Linked DNA regions of Homo sapiens. The protein of the gene in region 2 interacts with the protein of the main gene of each other region in a pairwise test. Each region holds a gene or a part of one and is shown on either strand. Other genes may lie near its edges.

What was found. The genes of interacting proteins can lie anywhere in the genome.
Region 1: the proteins of ABHD6 (region 2) and RTP2 interact in binary tests that used the Homo sapiens proteins (3 or more experiments, as listed by UniProt).
Region 3: the proteins of ABHD6 (region 2) and FIS1 interact in binary tests that used the Homo sapiens proteins (3 or more experiments, as listed by UniProt).

The regions. Positions count from the first base shown.
Region 1 is NC_000003.12:187,698,226-187,707,319, forward strand, and holds RTP2 (receptor-transporting protein 2), read right to left. Parts: upstream 4,333-9,094; 5' UTR 3,904-4,332; coding exon 3,740-3,903; intron 787-3,739; coding exon 273-786; 3' UTR 34-272; downstream 1-33. UniProt on the Homo sapiens protein: Specifically promotes functional cell surface expression of olfactory receptors, but not of other GPCRs.
Region 2 is NC_000003.12:58,288,811-58,296,092, forward strand, and holds the end of ABHD6 (monoacylglycerol lipase ABHD6), read left to right. Parts: intron 1-4,775; coding exon of another isoform or gene 4,776-4,778; coding exon 4,779-4,955; 3' UTR 4,956-5,924; downstream 5,925-7,282. UniProt on the Homo sapiens protein: Lipase that preferentially hydrolysis medium-chain saturated monoacylglycerols including 2-arachidonoylglycerol. Through 2-arachidonoylglycerol degradation may regulate endocannabinoid signaling pathways.
Region 3 is NC_000007.14:101,237,640-101,242,588, reverse strand, and holds the end of FIS1 (mitochondrial fission 1 protein), read left to right. Parts: intron 1-1,682; coding exon 1,683-1,759; intron 1,760-2,341; coding exon 2,342-2,447; intron 2,448-2,685; coding exon 2,686-2,783; 3' UTR 2,784-3,117; downstream 3,118-4,949. UniProt on the Homo sapiens protein: Involved in the fragmentation of the mitochondrial network and its perinuclear clustering. Plays a minor role in the recruitment and association of the fission mediator dynamin-related protein 1 (DNM1L) to the mitochondrial surface and mitochondrial fission.

The DNA of each region.
Region 1 (9,094 bases), about 130 Mb from region 2:
CCTCCTGTTGACCTAGTACTAGCACCAATCCTGGCAAGCTCTAAAACCTTTATTACACCCTTTTCCCCTTCCCCCAATTATTGTCACATCCAGTGAAAGAATCATTGCCTATCTTCTAATGCAATCCTCTCATTCCGCAGATGCATTAACTGAGGCCCAGAGAGGTGACCGGATTGTCCAGTCATATGTTGAATCTGTAGCAGGATCAAGTCCAGACTGTGTCCTCCCCACTCTCAAGCCCATGTGCCCTCTCCCACCCTTAACCAGCTCCACTAAAAGAAGGCAGGACTGAGGAAGGAGAACTGCAGGTAAACAACGAGCAGGCAGAGAGAGGCCCAGAAGAGGCACCAGCGAAGAGACAAGAAGTTGTAGCCGGATCCCGCCTGGGCCCTCGGCTTGGAGGCTTCAGAGGTGTAGGTGGTCACCTCCTCCTCCAGCAGCTTCTCGCTGGGCTTCCAGTGAACGATGCCCTCCTGGCAGGCCTCACAGAACTCTGCACGATGCGGCCCGCTGTCCGGGCGGCTGGCCACGTGGATGCGGTACTGGCCACCATCCTCCTCGTAGCACTGCTCGCGCAGGCTGGTGATGAGGTTGTCCACCAGGCCCTCGATGTTCTCCTCCAGCATGCTGGACTCGTCCAGCCGCGCCGTGCCGCACTCATAGCACAGCTGCTTGAAGACGCGCATGCGCACCGAGCCCGCCCGCTGGGCGCGGTCCAGGAACATGTGGAAGAGGATGACCACATGGGCAGACTGCCAGGTGTGCCAGCACCAGGAGCAGTGGAACCTGCCGGGAGGAGAAGGAGGGGTGGAGAAGGTGGGCATCCCAGAGAAGCCTGCCCTGAGAAGCTCTGAGAGGGAAAAAAAAGCCTGTGTGCCCGTGCTTGGAGATGGAGGCAGTGTTTACTGCCCTGTGGATTCATTAGCACTCCAAGGCCGGCCTGCTCTCGCCTCCTCCTGGTGAGCACCCCTGGGACCCGAGCAGCATCCTCAGGAGCCAGTGCCGGAGCCATCTGGCATCCAGCAGTGCTCTAGAGCGTGCCTCCTGCGGTCTCAGCTGCCCCCCAGCCCGATGCACTCAAGGTTGCACCTGGGCGCTGTGCAGGGTCATCCCCCCCTCTCTGGGCTTCATTTCTCATTTGTGAAATGTAGTGTGTTGGCGTCCAGTAAGGGTCCTTCCTCTGTGACCTCCTGCGACTCTAATAAGAAGGATGACATACACCATCTAACTCATGCATCTTGCTTACTTTGGGGAGAAGAGACGCCTCTAACTGTGCCAAGCACAGACCCTGGCACACTGTAGGTCCTCAGTAAACCACTGAGAATGATGGGATGGACAGACCGGTAGATGGGTAGGATCAACTGGCTTTTAGGAGGAACTACCAAGTTTAGTTACTACATCTTCACAAAGAACACTCCCCAGTCTCTTGACAAGTCTTCTCTAGATCCCACTCTAGCCCTGCAGTGGGGACTGGAAAAGAGGGTATTCATTCCCATTGCCACTCCACACACACACACACACACACACACACACACACACACACACACACACACACACATATATTTTCTCTCTCTCTCTTACATGCACAGAGGCCACTTGGCGTAACCTGGGCTTTCTAGAGTCCCAGTCTCAGGAAGTGTTGTGGGTGGTAGCCTGGGGCTCATCTAGGCAAGCCCCACTCACTCCGCCCCCACCACTGCCTGCACACTTTCAGTGATGCAGCACTCCTGACCTCCAGGGCAGTTCTTTCCTTCCCTGAGATGAGCCTCTTCCAGGCCTCTGTTATAGAGGCTTCACAGGCAGTCAGATGTCCACTGGGCTGTCCCTGTCCTCATCACTGGCCCTTTCTGGATCCATTGTATGATGGCCTTGAAGGACTTCTGATTAGGAACTCAATTCAATCCAACAGACACCATTCAACACCTCCCATATGCCAAGCACCACTCAACCCAGGCTATGGGATAGAGGTGAGGCCAAGCCTGGCTCTGACCCCTGAAAGCCTGATCACATGAGCATAGAACAGTACCCAGAATGGCCCAAGGTGGGGTTGGCAGGTCAGAGGAACCTAGCTGGTACTGAACCAGGAGAGGTTCCCCGCCCCCAGTGCTGGGTGAGAGCTGCAGGGCATCTGCCTGTTTAGAGACAGAGTGAGCCTGTGCACAAATAAGCTCATGGGCAGCAGTTCTTCAGCTCTTCCTGAGGCCAGCTGGGAGCCACAAGTCACCAGCCAGGAGTAAGAGGAGCTGACCTCTGAAGCAAGAGGAGACATGAGCTTGCTGAGCTCAGCCCCGAAACTCTGGATCCTGGGCACTCAAGTTTCCAGGCATCTGCACCTCTTCCACCAGGCAGTTCAAATGCTTTATGTTTTCAGTCTCCTTCTACACCTTTTTACATCAAACCAACCCAGAATTGCTTCACCTACATCAAGTTAGGCCTCACATCTTAAATTCAAAAATATCAGATCTGGGGGCAGGCGAGCTTAAGAAGCATCTAGTCAGCCCTTTATTTCACTGAGAAGAGACAGAAGCCCAGATAGTAAGAGAGGCATCCATGTACACACAGCTAGTTAGAGGCAGAGCCAGTGCTCAGCACATAACAGGTACCCAATAGATGCTTCTTGAGTTGATGGAACTGACATGAATCAGCCAACCTCTGGTTTTCTGTCTTTTTTTCACAAGGCAGGTTTACTCCAATAATTCCAGGTCTTGGGACAAGAGTACAAACGTAAGCTCCCTACCCACATCTTGCCTCCTCTGTTCCCACCCTCAGCACCATTCTGCACCATGAGAAGCTTCACACACATACACGTGAACAACCCAGCCTTTGTGTCCATGTTCTGGCTACATCTCCAGAGCACAGCCACTTACTGGCCTCTCTTGAATCCAAGGACACAGGAAAAAGGCCTGCACAGACACTACAGATGGACTTGAGGTAGTCTGGGGAGGAATTTCTGTAGTCCCAGTCCCCAATCATGATCTAAAAGGAGGAAAGGCATGTGGACTTTAGACGGCCTCGTCCCCTTGGCCTCAAGGACTCTTTGCCCTGTGGTAGATGTGCAGCTCCTATAAAGAGTGGGACCCTGGGCTCTAAGTTCCTAAAGAAAGTTTTGCTCAAAGCTAAATCTTTTTATCACAGGTGCATAGATAATAGAGCTAGAGTGGATTGGATCTATTATCTAAGACCAACCCCCTCATTTTGTAAATATAAAAACTGAGAGCCAGAAAGGGAAACAGACTTGCCAAGTTTACAAGGCTACTTAGCTATATAGAGCCAGTTCGTAGCACACAGCAGGTGGTCAATAAATGTTTATGTATTCAGATCAAATTGGATTAATTCACTAAACATATCTAGGAACAGAGCATAGCTGTACCCCCTGCATTCCCCCAACTCCTAGATTAAAACTTTCCCCAATGGACCTCATGGCCTCCTTCCTTCAGTTCCAACTCACTCTAAATGTCAGAGATTGCAGGGACATAGATGATATTACAGCTCTTCATTTAATGTGGACAACTAAGACCCAAAGATGGAACATAACTTTCTCAGGGTCACCCAGGGAGTTAGTGGTATTGCTAGGATTAAAAGCAAGAACTCTCTGACCCAGCCGGCTGTCTTTGTCTTTTTCCCCATCTGAGCTGACACCAGAATAAGCCCGCGACTGGGCTCTGTCTCTCCTTGGAAAGTACCCCACAGCTGTGACCCAGGGGCTGTCTGCAAGGTCCCTCCCCACTGAACCTCTCACCTGCCTGAGGCGTGCTGCTCCAGGTACTGCTTCCAGCCAGGGGCCAGCTCACTGGGCTTGAGGTTGGGGTCTATGATGAGCTCCCAGCTGTCCGCTGGCTTTGCCACCTCCATCTTCTCATAGAAGACTTTCTTCCACTCACAAGTGGTCAAGCTGGTACACATGGTCCTGCTGGCAGAGGTGGCAGTTCGAGCTCAGCCCTGGTGAGAACACAGAAAGAGCACGGATAGGTACGGGACAATTCAGTGTCTACGGTCAGAATCCTCATCGGCAGGACTGGGAGTAAACAGGACCCAGCTCCCTCCTCTGTTACCCTGGAACCTGTTACCATGGTAGCCAGGCAGGGCACCAAGAGTGAGGGCTGGGGAGAAGGGAAGCCCCAAGGGGGAGTTTCAGGGCCCTGAGTTAGGCTTCAGAGGCAGCGCTGGGTAGGCCTGAGAGGAGCAAGCACAGTGGGAGGCCCAACCTCAGACCACACTCATCTGGATTTCCAGAGGTCTCCAGGAGGCAAGGACTATTTGGTGGCCCTGCTTCACCCAACTGCTCTTCTAGCATTCTCCACATCATGTGCTATGGTAAGTACGACACCCTAGGAAGTCAAGGAGAAATGAGGGACAGGGAAAGGCAGAGCCTGCTGCTTCCACACCCCCTGATATGCTGTGACCATCACTTACCATGTGCCTAGCACAAACCGCTTGACCTGTGTGCTGGCCAAAGCAGATCAGATCAGGAAACTGAAGTTTATGCAACCCCTAAGTGGCTCATCCAAGATTCAGATCTAGGCCTTCTGAAACCGAGCTCATTTGTTTATTTATTTTAGTACTATTGTGCTCCTAACAGGGAATTGAGTGAGAAGTAACATCTCTTTGCCCAGGGCAATCTTAGACCAGTTGGTGAGCTAGAATGTAATTTCATATGCCATGCAAAGCACAGTAATAACATTTCAGATTCATAGCGTCATAGAACTGTTAGAGCCCATATTCAGTTCCTGGTCCCAAGCCAGGCTAAGGTGGCTGCTGGGGTAATGAGTTTGTTCTGTGCTGCAGGCTCCTGCTGCCTCCATTACTGCTGAGCTGGAGCAAGAGAGCATCCGTAGCTCTGTGATGCCCAATTCAAATTCTTTAGAAACCAGAGGGGAATCTGACTTCAAATTTGGTAATCCAAGTGAAGACACGGTTACCTGAAGGGAGGCTGCCTTGAGCATGGAAAAGACCAGGCATATGGCTGCTTACCCTAGCTTTGGTCCAACTTCCAACTGTAATCATCTTACGATTCTTTAACCCGGAAGTCTGGATCCCTAGACACGCAGAGTTCCAACAGTAAAGAGCTTCAAGAAGTGAAACAGGTTGCTAAGAACCGGAAGCTCTTGGTGTTGAGTTGCCAAGTGGTTTTCAGGAAGTGTGAAGTCAGGGACAATGTCACTGGATTCTCTCTTGAAATGAAAAGTGTTACTCTAGCGGCTTTGTGCTAAAGACCTCAGAAAGGACACAATTGTCTTTGAACCATTGACTGACAGCTCTAGAAGAGCTCTTTTATTTTTAAAAATCTGGTTTATTTCTTGAACTCTTCATTTCTTAACCAAAATTTATTGACATTGAATTAAAACAACTGAGGCCTGGAAATGGAAAATTACTGGCCCAGGCTCTCAGGACTGGGTAGCTCAAACCTCACTGGGGATTCCCTTAGAAGCCAGTTACCAGACCAGGTGAGACAGAGGGATCCATGAATGGCCAGGAACTGAACGAAGCTGAGATGAGCTTATGGCCTGGCCTAGACCCTCGTGCCAGGAAAGAACCTCTGAGAAATAGTATACCCTTGTTCCCAGAACAAATGGCAATAAAGGAAAAACAGAAAGAGGATGAGAATTGTCAGGGTTTACCTGTATTTTCTTTTTTCCTCAAATAATGCAATCCCCTTAGGCCTAGTATCAGGTTTAATTTAGCATAGCAGCTTCTAAGCAGAGACCAATAGAATTCATCTTTCTGTGTAACAGCACTGTTTTCACTTTTCATACAATCAGTGAGCACAATTACTACTTCAATTTTCCGCGAATGACACTATCTTATTCCAGAACCCACGATTTAAGAGCTCACAAATGTATATTGTGTACAGCTGTGGCCACATCACACTCTGGCAGCTTCATTATACATATTTTGTCTAGGCAATACTTTTTCAAATAAAGAAATTGTTATTTCTTTATAAAATAAAATACTGAGCACCTGTATTCTGCAAACAAATCAGCAAGGGGGAGGGGATGGATAAAAGAATCACTTTTCCCCTTCAATTTGGAATGCAAGTTAATGAAGAGCTTTGTAAAATATTTATTATTCAATTTTACTTATTAGAGTAATGTAAGAAATGCCAGTGTGGAGCTTAAAATGACAAAGTAATGAAGAGTTGAAAAGGTGTGTACATCAAAATCACCTGGAGAGTTCTGAAAACTGTATACACCTCTGCTTCAGAGATTTCAATACATGTTCTTGAGGAGACAAATTTGCTCTCCACCTACTCCAGTCCTGGGAAGAATCCCTTCTATTGCCAGCCATTGTTACTGATGGGATATGTTGTCCCACAGGCTACTGGAGGCCAAAAATGAAAAACAAAAAAAGAAGATTGAGTAAAATGAGCTAGTGGTTTATAATATTTCTTTACCAGGAAATAGATCCAGGACAAATGCAAGGTGTGTCCTATCTTCTCCTGTGTCTCCGCAATTCAAAGAACCGTAGACGATGCTATAGGGCGAATCCAAGATCCCCTGGGGAGTATTTTCAAGAGATATTAGGAAGGCCTCTCCATCCCCAGGATGTAGCACTTAGCGACAGCATGGTCCAAGCTCCCACTCTTTGGGTGGGAGCTGACCTCTGAATCTCAGGGGAGGCCACACAGAGCAGTCCATGGCTCTCTAATAGTGGCACATAGTGGAATCTTCCCAGGAAGATTTTACGCTGCCCTTTTATTAATTGGCAGCAACCAGAGCAACTGCAGGCAAGTGACATTCTGTTTCTGCTGGTGTCCAAGGGCCCAAATTCTGTGCACCATGCTTCCCAGCACCCCAAAGGCTCTGGAATCTGTATTAAGAGTGACTATATCTACTTATCCTTTTTTCCGGGTCTTATTATCCTAGATAGAGATTTGGTGACGAATCTATTATGGGATGTAAATACATAAAAAGACAGATAGAAATAGGGTGTGCTCCATGCAAGGGAGAAAAAAAAAAGATAGGGGTTGAGTTAGGAAGGAAGAATATAGAGGGTCTGGGGACACTTTCAGCAGGTACAGCCTATGCTGCTTCTGTCCAAGAGGCTGAGGGCCTTCATCAGAGTTCCTTAGCTATACTCAGAGAACCTGCTAGTTTCTGTTGAGCTGAGGCTCAACACACACAAAAATAGCCATGACTCATCTCTGGGACACTCCTAGCCATCAAGGCAGGGTGAAAAGGGAGCATGGGATAGATTGTGCTGGCTTTTAAAGCATCCATTCTAAAAATGACAAGGCTGGGGTCAATATCCTGGGCAGACTTTTAAAAATATATATCTTTCCTTTTAAACACACATTTACCCAGTAGAACATTTGTAGTTCCAGGGCTTTCCAGGAGACACCAATTCACATAAGGAAAGGACCCATTAAAGCTGAGTCCATTCCTGAGGCAAGTCTCTCACGATAAATAGAACGAATTTTACCTTGAGTATCTATCTTTAGGAAACAGGTCACCTTCCAAAGACTGATGGGGATTCCTTGATGAGCAGTCAGAAAGGCTGTTTGGCCCCAACACTTAGCTCAGTTAACTTCCTTGGAGACTTTACATTCCCAGAATTGACTATGTACTTCAATTTACATGGGAGTGAGAAGGGAAAGGACTAATACACTCATTAGTATTGTATTTACCCTTAAGGCTGGATACTGACTTTACCCTTTTTCTTATCCAAAAATCAAGATAAAATTGTTCAAGTGCATAAAATTGGACAAACATTACATAGATATTGCATAAACAGGCAGTTAAAAGCCCCCAGTAAAGATTTAAACAGACCACTTAGCTCTGACATTGGAACCAGAAGATACACAGTCAATAGGAGTCACAGGCCCAAAATGATCAGGCTTTGCTTAGAGTTAAGTTAAATATGCTAGAAACACTTCAATTTATTTCCCCAGTTGTCAAACAATTGGAAAGAGCATAACTACACACTATAAAAATGCTTTCTTACTCCCAAGGATAAGGCAGGTAGGTTTTATAGTAAAACAAAGCATATGAGACGCAGATCTTACATGAGATGTAAAACAAATATGTTAAACGAAGATGTTTTACATGAGATGTAAAACAAAGCATATGAGATGCAGATCTTTATATTTCTCAGTAAATTTGAGCTTTCTTGATATATGCTTATAGACACTATAGTTAAAAAGCTACATTTCTTGCAAAGTCCCAAGGTAAATATAAGTAAAGCTTGGGAAGAGAGAATTCTACAAGAAAACCCACTGACCAGAATAAAAAGAATTTTAAAACAGAAAGATCCCTTGATTAGTGAAACAAGAAAATGGCCACAACTACAAGCCAGAACAATTATAGTTAAATTTGGATATAGAGTGGGAGCACATGAAGAACCAATGCATGCCTCACTTCATCTCACGCAGAGTGAATATTTCTTTTCTTTTTTTTTCTTGGGACAGTCTCACTACGTCAAGCAAGTTGGAGTGCAATGGCGTGATCTCGGCTCACTGCAGCCTCTGCCTCCTGAGTTCAAGCGATTCTCCTGCCTCAGCCTCCTGAGTAGCTGGGATCACAGACGTGCACCAGCACACCTGGCTGATTTTTGTATTTTTAGTAGAGATGGGGTTTCACCATGTTGGCCAGGCTGGTCTCGAACTCCTGACGTCGTGATCCACCCACGTCGGCCTCCCCAAGTGCTGGGATTACAGGCATGAGCCACTGTGCCTGGCCAGAGTGAACATTTCTTTAAACATGACCCACCCCAGTAGCAATGAGCACACCTACCACACACATCTGGGTTCCTAATACCATTCTCCAGTTAAAATAACAACAACAAACTAGGTCTTCTTGGAAAAATTATATGAAGGCTCATTCATTCCTATGTCTGGAGGTTGATGCTGCCTGTGAGATGGGACCACAGCTAGGTCTATGGGCCAAAACATCTACACATGGCCTTTCTATGGAGCCTGGGCTTCCTCACAGGATGCTGGCTGAGTTCCAAGGGCTGGTGTCACAAGAGAATCAGGCAGAAGCTGTGCTTCCTTTTATGAGCTACCCTCAAAAGTCACAAGGCAACACTTTCACCATTGCCCAGATTCAAGGTAAAGGAGCATAGACCCCACATTTGGATAGGAGGAAAGTCAAAGCTA
Region 2 (7,282 bases):
GCAGGTGCAGGGTCAGATCCTGTCTGTATTTATGATTTTGATATTTTGTTCATCATGTGCCTTTTTCCATTAATGTTTTTTTTAACATACTGCACTAAAATATTTTCTCTTAATTTATGAGTTTTTTGGCACTTAAATTTTGTGCCTTAGGCAAATGCCTCATTTGCCTCACCATAGTTTTAGCCCTGGTGTGAAGCAATGCAGGAAAAGGTTTTGATTTTTGTTTTTTGTTGGGCAGGGGGGTTGTTTGTTTGTTTGTTCTGAGACTGGTTCTTGCTCTGTCACCCAGGCTAGAATGCAGTGGCTCAATCATAGCTCACTGCAGCCTCAACCTCCTGAGCTCAAGCAATGCTCCCACCTCAGCCTCCCAGGCAGCTGGGACTACAGGCATGTGCCACCACACCCGGGTAATTTTTTATTTTTTTTATTTTTTTATTTTTTTTATTGATCATTCTTGGGTGTTTCTCACAGAGGGGGATTTGGCAGGGTCATAGGACAATAGTGGAGGGAAGGTCACCAGATAAACAAGTGAACAAAGGTCTCTGGTTTTCCTAGGCAGAGGACCCTGAGGCCTTCCGCAGTGTTTGTGTCCCTGGGTACTTGAGATTAGGGAGTGGTGATGACTCTTAACGAGCATGCTGCCTTCAGGCATCTGTTTAACAAAGCACATCTTGCACTGCCCTTAATCCATTTAACCCTGAGTGGACACAGCACATGTTTCAGAGAGCACAGGGTTGCGGGGTAAGGTCACAGATCAACAGGATCCCAAGGCAGAAGAATCTTTCTTAGTACAGAACAAAATGAAAAGTCTCCCATGTCTACCTCTTTCTACACAGACACGGCAACCATCCGATTTCTCAATCTTTTCCCCACCTTTCCCCCCTTTCTATTCCACAAAACCACCATTGTCATCATGGCCTATTCTCAATGAGCTGTTGGGCACACCTCCCAGACGGGGTGGTGGCTGGGCAGAGGGGCTCCTCACTTCCCAGTAGGGGCGGCCAGGCAGAGGCGCCCCTCACCACCCGGACAGGGCGGCTGGCCGGGTAGGGGGCTGACCCCCCCACCTCCCTCCCGGACGGGGTGGCTGGCCGGGCAGAGGGGCTCCTCACTTCCCAGTAGGGGCGGCCGGGCAGAGGCGCCCCTCACCTCCCGGACGAGGCGGCTGGCCGGGCGGGGGGCTGACCCCCCCACCTCCCTCCCGGACGGGGCGGCTGGCCGGGCGGGGGGCTGACATCCCCACCTCCCTCCCGGACGGGGCGGCTGGCCGGGCAGAGAGGCTCCTCACTTCCCAGTAGGGGCGGCCGGGCAGAGGCGCCCCTCACCTCCCGGACGGGGCGGCTGGCCGGGCGGGGGGCTGACCCCCCCACCTCCCTCCCGGACGGGGCGGCTGGCTGGGCAGAGGGGCTCCTCACTTCCCAGTAGGGGCGGCTGGGCAGAGGCGCCCCTCACCTCCCAGACGGGGCGGCTGGCCGGGCGGGGGGCTGACCCCCCCCACCTCCCTCCCGGACGGGGCGGCTGGCCTGGCGGGGGCTGACCCCCCACCTTCCTCCCGGATGGAGCGGCTGGCCGGGCAGAGGGGCTCCTCACTTCCCAGTAGGGGCGGCTGGGCAGAGGCGCCCCTCACCTACCGGATGGGGCGGCTGGCCGGGCGGGGGGCTGACCCCCCCACCTCCCTCCCGGACGGGGCGGCTGGCCTGGCAGGGGCTGACCCCCCACCTCCCTCCCGGACGGGTCGGCTGCCAGGCGGAGAGGCTCCTCACTTCCCAGACGGGGTGGCTGCCGGGCGGAGGGGCTCCTCACTTCTCAGACAGGGCGGTTGCCGGGCGGAGGGTCTCCTCCCTTCTCAGATGGGGCGGCTGGGCAGAGACGCTTCTCACCTCCCAGACGGGGTCGCGGCCGGGCAGAGGCGCTCCTCACATCCCAGACGGGCCGGCGGGGCAAAGGCGCTCTCCACATCTCAGACAATGGGCGGCCGGGCAGAGACGCTCCTCACTTCCTAGATGGGATGGCGGCCGGGAAGAGGCGCTCCTCACTTCCTAGATGGGATGGCGGCCGGGCAGAGACGCTCCTCACTTTCCAGACTGGGCAGCCAGGCAGAGGGGCTCCTCACATCCCAGACGATGGGCGGCCAGGCAGAGACGCTCCTCGCTTCCTAGATGGGGTGGCGGCCGGGCAGAGGCTGCACTCTGGGCACTTTGGGAGGCCAAGGCAGGCGGCTGGGAGGTGGAGGTTGTAGCGAGCCGAGATCACACCACTGCACTCCAGCCTGGGCACCATTGAGCACTGAGTGAACCAGACACCGTCTGCAATCCCGGCACCTCCGGAGGCCGAGGCTGGCGGATCACTCGCGGTTAGGAGCTGGAGACCAGCCTGGCCAACACAGTGAAACCCGTCTCCACCAAAAAAATACGAAAACCAGTCAGGCGTGGCAGTGTGCACCTGCAATCGCAGGCACTCGGCAGGCTGAGGCAGGAGAATCAGGCAGGGAGGTTGCAGTGAGCCGAGATGGCAGCAGTACAGTCCAGCTTCGGCTCGGCATCAGAGGGAGACCCTGGAAAGAGAGGGAGAGGGAGACCGTGGGGAGAGGGAGAGGGAGAGGGAGAGGGAGAGCAATTTTTTATTTTTTGTAGAGATGAGGTCTTACTATGTTGGCCAGGCTGGTCTCGAACTCCTGGGTTCAAGAGATCTTCCCACCTCGGCCTCCCAGAGTGCTGATATTATAGGTGTGAGCCACCACACCCAGCCCAGGAAAAGTTTTTGACCATTTATATGAATATTCTATCTAGGAAATCGCTGAAATGGTTCCCACAGATGTGCATATCTCATCAGGGGGTCGTTCAGTAGTTGCACATACCTCTGGGTGGCCATGGAGAATGATGGATTTGTAACGCTAACCAGCAAACAGTGCCAAAGCCAGCAGCTCATATGGGTATTTTTGCCTGTGAGTTGTGGTTTCTGATATCTCTCCAGGATAGACACTCAGTTTTGCCTGGGCATGATGGTGCGTACCTGTCATCCCAGCTACCTGGGGGGCACTGAGGTGGGAGGATCACTTGAGCCCGGGAGGTCAAGGCTGCAGTGAGCCATGATCGTGCCACTGCACTCCAGCCTGTGCAACAGAGCGAGACCCTGTCTCAAAAAAACAAAAAAAGACACTCAGTTGGGAGTTTCCACTTTTTCATGCTGTTTTCACCTATTGACTGCATCTGCGTTTCTTCTGAGTGTTTCCACAGTAGCTGGGTGTTATTCCTGCTCAGTGGGTTGCCGTGGCAGCCTTAGCTGTGAGTGAGTGACAAGGCAGAGGTTTCCATTTCCTTGGCTGGAATTAGCTGTTAAGCTCCCCATTAGCTGTTCCTTTTCCTGGTCCAGGGATGCCCTGCAGGACTCTTTTCCTTGACTGAGGCATCGTCTTACCTTAACTCCCCAGTGGGCAGAAAATCTTGGTTTTAATAATTTGAGTTGGTGAGAATAGAGCAAAGACACAGAAGGTGCTTGAGTTTGTTGGGGCTTTTGCTTTTGCCGTTAAGGATGGGGAGGAGGGGCCCTCTTGTCTAGGATGAATTGAAGGTAAAGGCAGCTAAGAGAAGGGGAGTGAATGCGGATCCACTTCTGAGGGAGGATGTTGGGGAAAAAGATGGAGGTGGATTGGCATAGTAGCTGGGAACCCAGAGGAAAAGGAGAGGAAATGAGTTGTTTGAAAAGGATCAGCCCTGGAAAAGTTCTGGCTTTCATGTTGGAAAAGCATTCCCCATATCTGCAGAGGTTAGAGCCAAGAAACACACAGCTCTGGGGATCCCCAGAGGACCTTCAAAGAGACCTCCAGCTGGGTGCGGTGGCTCAGGCCTGTAATCCTAGCACTTTGGGAGGCTGAGGCAGGTGGATCACCTGAGGTCAGGAGTTCGAGACCAGCCTGGCCAACGTGGTGAAACCCCATCTCTACTAGAAATACAAAAATTAGCTGGGCATGGTGGCGGGCACCTATAATCCCAGCTACTGGGGAGGCTGAGGCAGAAGATCACTTGAACCTGGGAGGCGGAGGTTGCAGTGAGTTGAGATCACGCCACTTCATTCCAGCCTGGGCGAAAGAGTGAAACTCCTTTTCAACAAATAAAGAGATACCCCCAGCTTGTGATAATTAGCCTTCCCCTCTTGCATCCTTCCTACAGCTTGGGCTGCCCTAACCAGCCACAGGGCCAGCCTGATCAAGTCACTCACCTTAACACAGCCTGTGGTTCCCCATGGTCCGTGTGGCTGTAGGAGCAGCGCCCTCCTCTCTGCCCCTTCTCCCCACCATGCCACCCCCACTGCCCATGTGCTTGGTGTCTCAGCCGCCGTGCTCCTTGGTGGCCCCTGCACTCGCCATGATCTCCCACCCTGTGCCATTCCCACATCCGTGAATGCTCCTCCCCTGTCCCCTTTCTGCTCTCCCGGGACTCAGGAACGAGGTCTTCCCTCGACCCTGCTCATCCCCTGTGCTCTCTGACTTCCCCACCATACCATAACCTCCTCAAGGGCAAGGAACGTTTGTTTTCTACCTCAGTATTGCTGACATCAGCCCAACTCCTGGCACAGAGTTGCAGAATAAAACAGGAGGCATCATGGTTACTTCCATTCAGACAGCCACAAGCCCCAACACCAAAGGGACTTGGTCCTAAAATTCACATCCTCCTGCCCCACTGACCCCTGCCAGGCCTTGGTGGAAGTTCTGTCCACAGAGTGCACACGTGGGTGTCTGAATCTTTGTGTATCATCCAGCTCCCTTTCTTGCCCAGCAGGTGCTGGATGTGTCTGGGGCAGACATGTTGGCCAAGTCAATTGCCAACTGCCAGGTGGAGCTTCTGGAAAACTGTGGGCACTCAGTAGTGATGGAAAGACCCAGGAAGACAGCCAAGCTCATAATCGACTTTTTAGCTTCTGTGCACAACACAGACAACAACAAGAAGCTGGACTGAGGCCCCGACTGCAGCCTGCATTCTGCACACAGCATCTGCTCCCATCCCCCAAGTCTGACGCAGCCACCACTCTCAGGGATCCTGCCCCAAATGCGGTCGGAGCGCCAGTGACCCTGAGGAAGCCCGTCCCTTATCCCTGGTATCCACGGTTCCCCAGAGCTTTGGGGACCACGCGAAAACCTCCAAGATATTTTTCACAAAATAGAAACTCATATGGAACAAAATAAGAAACCCCAGCCATGAAATCTACCATGAAGTCTTCAAGTTCATGTCACTGAGAAGCTTGTGCAAAGCAGCCACCTTGGACCATAATTAAATCAAGGACATTTTCTTTGAGACATTCCTTATAGTTGGAGACTCAAGATATTTTTGTTGCATCAGGTGTATTCCCTTGCATGGGCAGTGGCTTTTATAGGAGCATTAGTCCTCATTCGCTGAACCCTGTTGTTTAGGTCTAATTTAAGTTTTACATAGAGACCCATGTATGACTGCAGCCCATTGGCTGCAAGACCAGGGAGGAAAGTGGCAAGCTGTAGAAAATGTTTACACGCATGGAGGGGCATTGCTCTAGCCCTCAGAGCGTCCGGAGCAGCAGGGTACATGGGTGGGAGGTTCATTCAGCACCCACCAGTCAGGTATGTTCTGAGTGAACCCACAGCAGTCGCAGAATGAGCACCTGGCAGGGTGGGTTTCCTAGGAATAATTTATTATTTTTAAAAATAGGCCTAATAAAGCAATAATGTTCTAGACATCTGTCTAAGTAATCAGACTCAGGTTCCACACACAAGCAACAACTCGTGGGCCTCTTTTCTATTTCAATGTGCTACTAAGAACCCTTGGATGTAACATACTAGTTAGTTAATGAATTCTGTGAATTCTGTGAAGAGTAATGTGATTGAAAATAAGTCTAAACAGCTGTAAAAGTGACCACAATGACATGAAATAAATTTAATAAGTCTAGATCAGCAACATGCAGGTGGTTTCTATTTCTGAACTCCTAATTAGGTGCAATGTTGGCAGATTTTCTGTTAACTTTAAAATGTGTTTTTTAAAATAAGGCTTGTTTAACAGGCTTTGGAAGTCTTTGCATGGATGATTTATTAGGTTTAAGGAATCATGTTTGCAATTTTTATCCAGTTGAAATTGTATATCAAAGGCCAGGTGCAGTGGCTCATGCCTGTAATCCCAGCACTTGAGAAGGCCGAGGTGGGTCGATTGCTTGAGGCCAGGAGTTCAAGACCAACCTGGCCAACATGGCAAAATCTTATCTCTACTAAAAATGCAAAAATTATCTGGGCGTGGTGGGACACACCTGTAATCCCAGCTACCTGGGAGCCTGAGGCATGAGAATCGCTTGAACCCGGGAGGCGGAGGTTACAGTGAGCCGAGATTGTGCCATTGCACTCCAGCCTGGGCAATAAGCGCAAAAATCCATCTCAAAATAATATAATAATAATTCACTGGAAATTGTATATCAAAAAAGGCAAGAGTCATCAAAATATTCTTTTTGACTCTTTCTGTAGGATTTAGGAGCCCTAAACTCCCCAGGAGCTTCACTCTTTCCAATTTTTTTTTTACAGAAAATCTACAGCCAAGTCATTCTGGGAATAAAGTGAGATAAACTTTACAGTTTAAATCTGAATTCAGGACTGTGTTTGAATATTTCAGTTTACCAGAGAAGAATGGAACTTAGAGCTTAAAAACAAGAAGAAGATATGAAAATATGACATCAAGCTGGGCTGCAGCTAAAGCAGTGCCTCAGAGGGAAATTCATAGGCTTCAATACGTATATTAGAAGGGAAGAGGCTAGGTGGAGTAGCTCACACCTGTAGTTTCAACACCTTGGGAGGCCAAGGCGGGAGGACTGCTTGAGCCCAGGAGTTTGAGACCAGCCTGGGCAACATGGCAAGACCCCATCTCTTATATAAAAAGAAAAAAGGAAAGAAAAATCAATAAATTAAGCTTCTAGCTCAAGAAATGAGAAAATAAATAGTATCAAAGCCAGAGCAAATTAGAGGGAAGAAACACAGACAAAAACAAAAATCAATGAAGTAGAAAAGAAAGTAGATATTAGACATTTTATTTGTTCCAATTTCCTATATTCACCAAGAATTCTGAGCATAGTGGGAGAGGGGTTCAGTGTTGGTGGGCCTAGGTGATGAGAGATGGTTTCCTCAGGATCAATGAGGAAGCCCCAGACCTGGGATAAGTACCTCAGATCAGAAACCGTACAGGATACAGGAACTCTTATGCTCTGGGTTGAATACCAGCTAAAGATGACATCAAAAGCAGTCCCTGAACTGTGCCCACCATGGGGTCATTCAGGC
Region 3 (4,949 bases), on a different chromosome or scaffold from region 2:
TGAACTCGGGAGACAGAGGTTGCAGTGAGCCAAGATCACGCCATTGCACTCCAGCCTGGGCAACACAGTGAGACTCCGTCTCAAAAAAAAAAAAAAAAAAACTATAAAAATAAGACTCTTTCTTAAAAGATACAAATAATTTTACCCTATGTTTGTCTACTTCGGCAATTCAGATTTTCAGGTTTATTCTACAGCAGGGTGTAGGTGTAGAAGAAACAGCCTCTCTAAGTGTTGCCAGTCTAGTTGAGAAAACAGTACAGACAGGAAGATTTATAAACACCTGCAGAATTATTTAGCAACAAATTCTAGTGCATACAGTACAGTTATCCTCTGGGAAGTCTCTGAATTAAGAAAGTCAGGTGGGGCCAGGCACTGTGGCTCATGCCTGTAATCTCAGCACTTTGGGAGGCCAAGGCCAGAGGATGGCTTGAAGTCAGGAATTTGAGACCACCTGGCCTGTCTGTGTAACAAAGATGTTTAAATTAGCCAGGCATGGTGGTGTGTGCTTATAGTCCCAGCTACTTGGGAGGCTGAGGCAGGAGGATCACTGACCCCAGGAGTTTGAGGCTGCAGTGAGCCATGGACATGCTACTGTGCTCCAGACTGGAGTGACAGAGCGAGACCCTGTCTCCGTTTTTTGTTTTTTTTTTCCCGAGACTGAGTGTGCAATGGTGCAATCTTGGCTCACCGCAACCTCTGCCTACCGCATTCAAGCAATTCTGCTGCCCCAGCCTCCCGAACAGCTGGGATTACAGGCATGTGCCAACACGCCCGGCTAATTTTGTATTTTTAGTAGAGACGGGGTTTCTCCATGTTGGTCAGGCTGGTCTCAAACTCCCGACCTCAGGTGATCCGCCCGGCTCAGCTTCCCAAAGTGCTGGGATTATAGTCATGAGCTACGGCTCACGGCCCACCCTGTCTCTTTAAAAAAAAAAAAAAAAAAAAAAAAAAGGAAGGAAGACAAAGTCAGGTGGGGTCTTCGGGGAAGGCTGATTGAAGGTGAGTTTTGAGCTGATTTTTTTAAAGGGGGAGGGAGTCCTAACTTTTTTTTTTTTAAACAATAATTGTACAGCAGGCAGTTTAGTTAAAACCACAACGGCAGCACTTTGGGAGGCCAGGGCAGGCAGATCACTTGAGGTCAGGAGTTTGAGACCAGCCTGGCCAACATGGTGAAACTCCATCTCTACTGAAAATACAAAAATTAGCCAGGCGTGGTGGCGGGCACCTGTAATTCCAGCTGCTCGGGAAACCGAGGCAGGAGAATCGCTTGAACCCAGGAGGCGAAGGTTGCAGTGAGCCGAGATCACGCCATTGCACCGCAGCCTGGGCGACGAGTGAAACTCCGTCTGAAAAAAAATACCACAGCAGATGCCAAAACTGAGTCACGCTGCCTTTGGCTTCTCCAGGGCCCCGATTTCCTCATTTCAGTTGGATGGACCAGTTGACTGTAATACTGATAAAAGGCATGTTCTGTCACTGGGGTGTTGGCACAGCTGGGGTTCACCCTGTCCCAGAGCTCTGGCTAGGGTGCTGGGAGTGACTGGAGCTGAAAGGGAGGCTTAGGACTGTGACCCTCCCAGGATCACAGAGGCATTCAGAGAGTGGAAGGGGCCTCTGGGACACAGTATTAGGAAAGTATTAGGAAAGAAGCATTTCTCACCCTCTTCTCTGCCCCTCCCCAGAGCTGCTGCCCAAAGGGAGCAAGGAGGAACAGCGGGATTACGTCTTCTACCTGGCCGTGGGGAACTACCGGCTCAAGGTGAGGTGGGGACCCCGTTCCCTTCACCCTCCTCTGGGGCTGCAGGACCTTCTTACTGTGTCCTCCAGGGTGGAGCCCTGGACAGCGGGAAGGCTGAAGGGGTGCAGAGGTGCAGAGCGGTGTCAGATGAGGACTCCGAGGGAAGATCAGAGTGGCGAGGGGGTGGGGAGGAAGGTGACGTCAAGAGACTGGGTGCAGGCCCAAGCCTTGCGCTGTTATCTCCCGCAGAGTTGGGGTTGTTTGTGGACTCTACTCCGTGGGGTGGGGCTGGAGGGAGGGAGTGGGTGGAGGTCGAGGGAGGAGCCCCCAGGGCTGAAGAAGGGAAGGCCCTTCACGTGGGCAGGGGGAGTGGTGGATACTGAGGTGTAGCCGGCCCAGTGGCTCACGCCTGTAATCCCGGCTACTCAGGAGGCTGAGGCGGGAGGACTGCTTGAGCCTGGGAGTTTGAGGTTGCAGTGGGCTGTGATTGCGACGCTGCCGTCCAGCGTGGGCAACAGAGCAAGACCCCGTCTCTTATTAAAAAACAAACAAACAAAAAAACACTGCGGTGTGTATGACGCGTGCGCGTTTCCCCGAGCGCAGGAATACGAGAAGGCCTTAAAGTACGTCCGCGGGTTGCTGCAGACAGAGCCCCAGAACAACCAGGCCAAGGAACTGGAGCGGCTCATTGACAAGGCCATGAAGAAAGGTGACAGCCTCGGCCCCTTTGTTCAGCCCCGCTCTTCCCCACGCCTGGGCACTTTGGTCTCTCTGTAAATGAACCCCTCCAGGCAGCCCCTCAGCCCCACCCCTTCCAGTTCTTAGAGCCCCTTGCCCTGCGACTCCAGGTAGGGGTGTGCCTCTGTTGAGGGGCAGGGCTGGCGGAAGGGGACGGTCAGGGTTTCCGCAGGGGCCGGGCTCCTGACACTGTCCCTTTCCTTCCCCAGATGGACTCGTGGGCATGGCCATCGTGGGAGGCATGGCCCTGGGTGTGGCGGGACTGGCCGGACTCATCGGACTTGCTGTGTCCAAGTCCAAATCCTGAAGGAGACGCGGGAGCCCACGGAGAACGCTCCAGGAGGGCCTGTCCATCCTCGCTGTCCTTTCCCTGTTCTCCCCCTGCCCCCCGTCTCTATCCTCTGTGGCCTTCAGCTAATTTCTGCTCCCCTGAGATTCGTCCTTCAGCCCCATCATGTGCTTTGGGATGAGTGTAAATAAAACGGGGCTGTGGCTTGGGAACCCCCGTGTCTGCGTTGAGGGGAGGGGTGGGTTCTGAACGCTGGGCACAGGGGGCGGAGACGTCACTCCTGGTCCTCTCCTGCCCCTGCCCTCCAGGTTGGCACGGGGTTCTTTGTCCACCCCGCAGCCCAGAGCCCACACCCTTCCTTCCTCCCTTTCCTGAAGCCATGTCCTTGAGAGTGCCGGGCAGCTCGGAGACATGGGGCTTTTCCATGGTCCCAGAGTCCTGGGAGAAGGCAGTGACCTGAGCATGGGCGGGCAGAACTTCGGGGCCAGGCCGGGCTTCAGGCCTGCATTCTCCTCTGACCCACTCAGCTACTTCTGTGGAGTTTTCCACAGCAGGCCCCCTTGGCTTCCTCCTCCCCACCCTCCCCTCCCTTTGTCTTCCTGTGGCCTCCCCTTCCTCCTACCTCCTCCTCTGGGGGAGGGGGAGCCCAGTAGGGGAAGGAATCCTGCATCTGGCATGGAGTAGGCGGGGGTCCCGGGAGAGGTCAGAGCCCAGGGAGCCCCAGCTCTCGCCTGTGGGCTGGAAGGTCAGGACTCAGCCCCACCTAGCCAGCTTCGCCCCCTCGTGCCAGGCTCGGCATGGGCCTGTTTTGCTTCACCGCATACCTCTCGTTCCACAGCCCAGGCCAGCACAGGAGTAGGGAGGAGACACCTGAGGGGAGGCCGGAGAAGCCCAGCAGGGCCGTGGGGCCAGGGAGGTGCGCAGCCAGCGCTGATGGCCCCCAGGGACAGAGCCCTAGGGAACCGGAGCAGGAGATGAGAGTGTCTGCTCTGGGACAGGTGCTCTGCACTGGCTCGGGATGGGGACCAGAGGCTGCTAATCCATCATCATTAACGAATAGAGTGGGTGACAGTCCCTGATAACTGGGAACAGGTTGCAGAGCTTAGCCACAGGATCACGCTCCAGGCTGTTGGCCAGCAGGACCAGGCTCGATGCTGAGTCAAAGATCAACTTAGGAGGAAATTTGAGTTTTGGGTGAGAGCGACTCCCTGGTGGCCTCAGCCCTGTGACACTCACATCCAGGACAGTTCCCGGTGCCAAGCGCTGGTTATGTGTGGGGGGCTTGACTCCCTGGTCCCAACGAGGTCTCAGTGTGTTGCCCAGGCTGGTCTTGAACTCCTGAGTTCAAGCAATCGTCTCAGCCCAGCCTCCCAAAGTGGTAGGATTACAGGCGAGAGCCACTGCGCCCGGCCCCTGGTCCCAGTTCTCACCACAGCCCCTGCAGTAAGCAGTCGGGTATGTCACTGACAGAGCAGAAGCTCAGGGGACTAAAACTCCCCGCCTGAGTTCCCTGGTGAATGGATGGTGGGGCCGAGTTCCATTCCAGGCTGGATGGAGCCCAGAGCTGTGGGTCTCCTACCCTCCCATCCCCTCATTCCAGCTTGATCTTCCTTAAGAGACTCATACGCCCCAACCCCTTGGTCTGAGTATCTTAGATTGTTCTCGTGGTTCCTCCGTCCTTCACCACTGAAGGCTGCTGTTCATTCTCTCTCCGTCTCTGTCCCTTATTGCTCTCACGTCTGTCTCTGTCATCTTTTCACTCCTTGTCCCTCTTACTCCGTTCTTTGGCCCCCAATGAAAGCTGAGTCAGAGACAGACGCTTCCCCTCAGTTCCCAGTGCCTCCCTTGGGGGCCCCTCCTTGGCTGTATCCGTCAGTGGCTCCAGGGTAAGTCTGCCCCCCCCACCCTCGTGGGGCGGGGAGCCCGGGGCAGCCCAGAGGCTGGGGGGAGGGGGTGGACTTTTGGCCCGTTTCGGTTATTCCCTCCATCTCGTCAACAGCTGCCGCGCGCAGGCTTAGCTCATTCCTCTGACCTGCCAGGAAGCAGAGAGACCCACAGAGCAGGAGGGAGGCAGAAAGTGGAGACGGACCTGAGCCCGAGGAAGAGGCAGGCAGAGGCTGAGGCTGATTCCACCCCAGCCTGCCTGGACAACCCTCCTTAGCCGCAGCCCCTTCCAGTTCCCTA